Linked DNA regions of Homo sapiens: region 1 is linked to region 2. The links come from fine-mapping of genetic effects on gene expression. A gene starts in region 2. The other region holds a variant in brackets. All regions are shown on one strand. Distances are from middle to middle.

Region 1 (2,912 bases), 630 kb before region 2:
TAGCAAATCCAGCCTGACATTCATCTTTAATGATCTCAGGATAAATGGTTTTAAGGTTAAACAGCCACAGAGACAACTGTCACACGTTGTCAGCTGGAACAGATGAAAGAGAAAAATGTGGCATCTGAAAAGCAACTTGCAAAATGATCTAAATATTTTACTTTATTTTCAGAAAACCCTCACCAGATCTGCCCCCTCACCACTAATCCTGGAGCAGCCTGATGACTTATGGGGAATCCATTGCTTAGCTTTGATGTAGGGAGGGAGAGATGAACGACTGCCTCCCAAAGCGTGGCTGCTGAGCAGGATATTAATGGGCAAGGCGGCTAATGCGTTTGCATTGTTCTGCAGAAGTTTTGCACTGCTTTGGGGAATCATTTATCCTTAGCAGTTGCAAGGTGGCCTGTTTTCAAGTAAACCTAGAGTAAAAATCTGGTTATCTATTGCCATGTAACAAACTGCCTCAAAACTTTGTGACATAAAGCACTGATTTTATTGTGCTCACGTGTCCTTGTCTCCATTCTGTGATGCTGGGGCCTTGTCTGGGAAGACTCGAAGACTGGGAGTGACTGCTTGGCTAGGCTGGGATGAGGCATCTTTACTTACACATCTGGCACTGGACGCTGGCTGGCTGCTGGGACTTGCTGGGGTGATGGCTGGAGAACATTTCACCTCTCCAAGCGGCCTGGCCTTCCTTACTGCAGTGTCTTCTGAATTGTTAGCTTCCTTATATGGTAGCAAGTGTGCAAGTCAGCAGGTGGAAGCTCCGCTATCTTTGTCACCTAGCCTCAGAAGTCACATAGCATCATTTCCACCGCCCTCTACTAGCGGGAGCAGTCATAAAAGCCCACCCATTTTCAAGGCAAGAGGTCATAGCCTGCGCCTCTCAAAGGGAGGATTGTCAAAGCCGCACTGGAAGATCATGTAAGTTGGATGATAGCATTGCTGCTGTATTTGAGAGATTGTGCTGTGCTCTATGTAGAGGTTTCTGTAGGAAATAAACAAGTTGAGTTCTCTGGTGAAAACACATCTGAAAACATGTTAATAGGAATATAGCTAATCCTTAGCATTTCTTATAGTAGCTAAGGTCAGTGTATGCTAGGCCTGGTACCTGAGCAGCAGTCTTGATGCTAAGTTAACAACAGGTAGCCAACAGGAGTGTTTTCTAGCTATTTGGAAATTGAAATTCAACCAAAAAAGCTACTGCCACTCTGAATCAGTTACATCATGATACCTTAGATCTAGGCTACCTTTTTTCCTGAATAATAGAAGGTTACATTGATTAGAAATTATGGGGAAAGTAGATTCCTTCATATAAGAATTGGTTAAAGTTTGACTCTGTTC[T/C]CTGTTAAAGTAAGCAGCTTTTTAAATAATTGAGTTCTTTGGAGGAGTTTTTATATTTTATATATTTTTTACCTATTTAGCCATGATAAATAGAATCAGATAAGAGACCGAGTGTGAATATTCAGCACGACCTTCAACCAGGTGTATATATTTCTCTCTATGTTCTAAAGGACTCAGCAATGTGTAGTGCCTATGAGTTCTCATTTGAAAAAGGAGGAATCCTATATGGAATGCCATGTAACGGCCAGGTGCAGTGGCTCATACCTATAATCCCAGCCCTTTGGAGGCCTAGGCAGGAGGATTGCTTCAGGCCGGGAGTTTGAGATCAGCCTGGCAACATAGTGAGAACCCCCCACACCTCTACAAAAAAAAAAAAAATTAGCCAAACTTGCTGGCACGCACCTGTAGTCCTGGCCATTGGGGAGGCTAAGGTGTGAGGATCGTTTGAGCCCTGGAAGAGTTCGAGGCCGCAGTGAGCTATGCTCACACTATTGCACTACAGCCTGGGTGATAGAGCAAGACCCCATCTCTAAAAGAAAAAAACAGATATATATAAATGCCATGTAAGCTTTTACACTTGTATTTCTTGTCTCAATTCTGGTTTTTTCTTGAGCAATTTCTTCTTTTCATTCTCATGAAAGTTAAGGTGATGACGCTGTGCTTACCCACAAACTGTGTATCCACGTAGCCTTCACTGCCATTTGTCCTGAGCCTTTTCAAGAAGCATAAATCCCAGAATGATCGAAACATCTCTTAGATCCCAGAGTGACTTAAGATCCATGCTAGGAATTAATCCTGCTTCCTAGGAAGTTACACAACAGCAGCATTTGTGGCAGTGCCACAGCAAGCCAGGGACTGGCCCACGGGCGGTACGCTGTCATTCCCAGTGCTTTCTCTGCCTTCCAGAGAAACAGGAATTTGCCACATGTCTGTGACTCATTTGCTGGAGCTGTTAAGTGGTGATGGTGTTTAAAATCTCAGGGAAGTAAAGCCACCATTTACTGAACACTTCCTGTGTGCCGTGCACTCAGTTGTAACCACATTATTTTACTTGGTCTTGACGAGAAGCCTTTAAAGGCACTTTTATTATCCCAATTTTACAGATGAGGAAATTGAAGTTCTGGGAGGATGAGTAACTTGTAGAAGGTCACACCATATATAAGTAATGGACCCAGCCTCTCCAACTACTCTCAGCTGATTATAGAGATTAAATTAGAAGCAGTTCTTCCTTTCTTGGAAAAGTAAACCTAATGGGGAACTCAGAAGCCATAAAGGAAAAGAGTGATTAATTTAGCCACGTAAACATTTAAGGCTTCTGCTCAACAAACCGCACCAAAAAATTGGATCAGGAATGTATAACAAACTAGTGGGTGGGGAAGGAGACTGCCAGGCTGTGATAAAAGGCCAATTTTTTAAAACATAACAAAAAACTCTTCAACAGTCGGTGAGCACGAGACATACAGACTGCTGTGAACATGGGACAGGATGCTCAGCCTCACTCATGATTAGAGAAATACAAATTATTTGCTGCAAATGACATTTTCAGCTGTAGGTTTGACAAAGATTTT
Region 2 (2,912 bases):
ACTGAGAAGTGGCAGCAAGGATTAGTCTAATGATGGAATACAGTTCCCCAAGGATCTTGGGGAGATTTTTGTATGTGTCAAAACATATGGAAAGCAGAAGAAAAGGGGCTTATTCAAAGAAATTTAAAAATTAAAAGATTTTTGGAGACCCAGATTCCCCCACCCTCCATAATCCTACAGCAGCATCTTCGCAAGAAATGTTTCCTGTTATATGCATGTGCTGTATCTATGTTCATTTCATACAGATTTATGAGATTATAAGTCACTTTTAAGAATAAACGCACACAACCATGTCCAGACAAATGTTGTCTTCTAAAGCGTTTACATTTGCAATTTAATTCAACCAATATTTATTGAGGGCCTATGACATGCCAGGCTGTGATCTAGGTACATGGGATACATCAGAGAACAAAACAGAATGTTTGCTCTGATAGATTATAGTCTGATAGGGTTAGGGTGGAGCCCAAGAAGAGCCATAAGTAAATCCACTTAGGGGTGAGGAGGTAGGAACTGCTTTGGAAATTGAGCCACATGGAGGAGGATAAGGAGGTGGAGAGGTTGGGCATGCAATTTTCAATAGGGCTATCAATAGGCTTAAGAAGTCAGGGTTGCCAACATTTCCCATTCCCCAAGCCTGCTTCCCCTTCCCTTGGAGCTTGTGCAGGCACTGAGCCAGTTTAAACAACACACACCTGACGGTCAGTGCCCAGTAAGTACTTGTTGACCAAATGACCAAATGAAGGGGGACTTTGTTTCTGGGCCCAGTGAAGGTTCCCCCTTGATCCCCTGGATTACCCAGTCATGACTCCTGGAGACTTGGCTATTTTCAAAAACCAGGCACACCCCCAAGAGGTGAAGAGTCCCCATTATAGAGGCCACCAGAGTAGAGAGATGGTTCCAGAGACATGTGGAGCACTAACAACATGCTGGAGAAAAGACAACCACGCCTAAGGTGTCTGGTCTGAGAAGGAGACAGGAGTGTTTGGATGCATAAGGTGTGAATGGGTATCCATAAGTATAGATAAATATATTTACAGTCATTGGTGAGCTGACGGGGGAAGGGAGGGAGAAGAGCGAAAAAGGGTTAATGATAGGGAGAAGGCTGCGAGAGCCATCCTCTAGTGAGAAATACCGAAGGTAGGCTGCGGCATTGCCAGGGGTGCAGAACAGTGTGGCGCGCTGTCGGGAGACACAGTGCTAAGGGGGAGAAGGGGGGAGCCCCAGGTGCACGCCTGGCTGGGTGAGTGCGGCGGGCAGGAGCCCTCGCTTCTGGGCGGGTCTAAGGAGGAGAAGTGGCTCGAGTTCAGCTCCAAATTGGGACGGAGGCAGGCGATGCGCAGGAGTGGGGAGGCGCGCAGGAGTGGGGAGCCAAGCCGGCGGGGTTCCAGTCTAGCAGGCTGTTCTCACTTGGCCCCACTCCCTCCACCTTTTGTGTTCCAGCTCCATAATCTGCTCCCTGAGGAAAGGGGGCTCGTCCCTTGGGGAAGCACCTCCAACTCCCCCATCCCCATTTGGTGGCATTCTAAGCAAGCAACGGCTTCGGGAGAGCTGCCTCGAGAGCCTGAGAGAAGTCCCGCTTAGAAGCTGGGCTGGGCAGGTGCGGAGTTGGGGGCGGGAAGCCAGGATTGGGCAAGTGGAGCTGCCTGTGACCGGCGCCACAGGGCCCAGAGCAAGCCGCTTGCTGGTTCAACCAGGAAACCGAGGTGCAGAAGGTGGACGCAGCGGGCCCTGGCTCATAGGGTGCAGGGTCGGTGGCTTACCTGCAGGCGCTCCCCTCCAGAGGTGCCCTCGCGTGGGCTTGCTCTGTGCGCCTCGGGGACTTCCTCAAACGGACTCGGGAAAGACAAGACAGTTGGCTCTTAAATAACTTCCTAAGAGGAGCCCTCACCCTCCTCCCCTGTCCCACAGGGTTTTCTCCTCCCCCTTCTCCACAGCTGGAGCCAGTAGGGGAGCTCAGAGGATTTTCTATTTACTTCATCTGGCCTGTTATCCCGGCAGGTGCGCCCTTCTCTCCCACTTGCCCCTCTGACTCCCAATTTCCCATTCCCACTTCTCCTCCCCATCCCCATCCCTAGATCTGCCCTCCCCACCGCAACCAGTTGCTGGGAGTACCAGGCAAGGGGCCCTGCAGTGCCAGGAAGTCCCCACCCGTCCCCTTTGGTCAGAGGGTCTGGGAGGGTTTCCTTTACAAAGGAATGCTTTTGCCTGGCAGGTCAGCTGCTACTGTGGCTTGGCAGGAGGGGGGTCTGCCCTCCCACAGACAGGTCACACAGACAGTTGTGACCATGCATGCAGTGAGAGCAACGTGTCCCTCCTGTGCAAATAAGGCATGGTCTGCATTCCTGAATCATCCCAGAGCCACAGCCACCGCCTAACCACAAGACTTCCTGCAGGAATGGGATGCCTAGCCCCAAGGAAGATGAGTAAACATCTTTAATAATGCCATGCAGATTAGAAAATAACACTTGGTTTTCTCTGAAAATCATTTTAGTGCATGTTCAAAAATTAGAAAATTTTCCCCCTAAAATTTTAATTTTTTTCTTTTACTCTTTCTTTCTTTCTTTCTTTCATCTTTCTATCTTTCAGATGAAGTCTTGCTCTGTTGCAAAGGCTGGAGTGCAACCTCCACCTCCCGGGTTCAAGTGATTCTTCTGCCTCAGCCTCCCAAGTAGCTGGAACTACAGGTGCATGCCACCATGCCCGCCTAATTTTTGTATTTTTAGTAGAGATGGGGCTTTACCATGTTGGCCAGGCTGGTCTCGAACTTCTGACCTCAGGTGATCCACCCTCCTTGGCTTCCCAAAGTGTTGGGATTACAGGCGTGAGCCACCGCACCCAGTCAAACATGGCTATTTCTAACCTTCTTTACTGTCTTCAAATTTCTGACCCTGCCACTCAATCTCCCAATGTTA

The links.
Region 1: its variant is fine-mapped to the expression of F13A1 in monocytes after LPS (Fairfax 2014, PIP 0.95).

What each region holds. Positions count from the first base shown.
Region 1 is chr6:5,693,136-5,696,047 of GRCh38, forward strand. The region is part of intron 6 of FARS2 (phenylalanyl-tRNA synthetase 2, mitochondrial); the gene reads left to right. It overlaps LOC101927950 (a long non-coding RNA gene), which reads right to left and starts at 2,137. Exons shown (of 4, transcript NR_110842.1): 1 at 2,010-2,137; 2 at 1,747-1,873. The variant T/C (reference allele first, on the strand shown) is at 1,345.
Region 2 is chr6:6,318,827-6,321,738 of GRCh38, forward strand. F13A1 (coagulation factor XIII A chain) reads right to left here and starts at 1,836. Exons shown (of 15, transcript NM_000129.4): 1 at 1,761-1,836. All of the region lies in intron 1 of LOC124901253 (a long non-coding RNA gene), which reads left to right.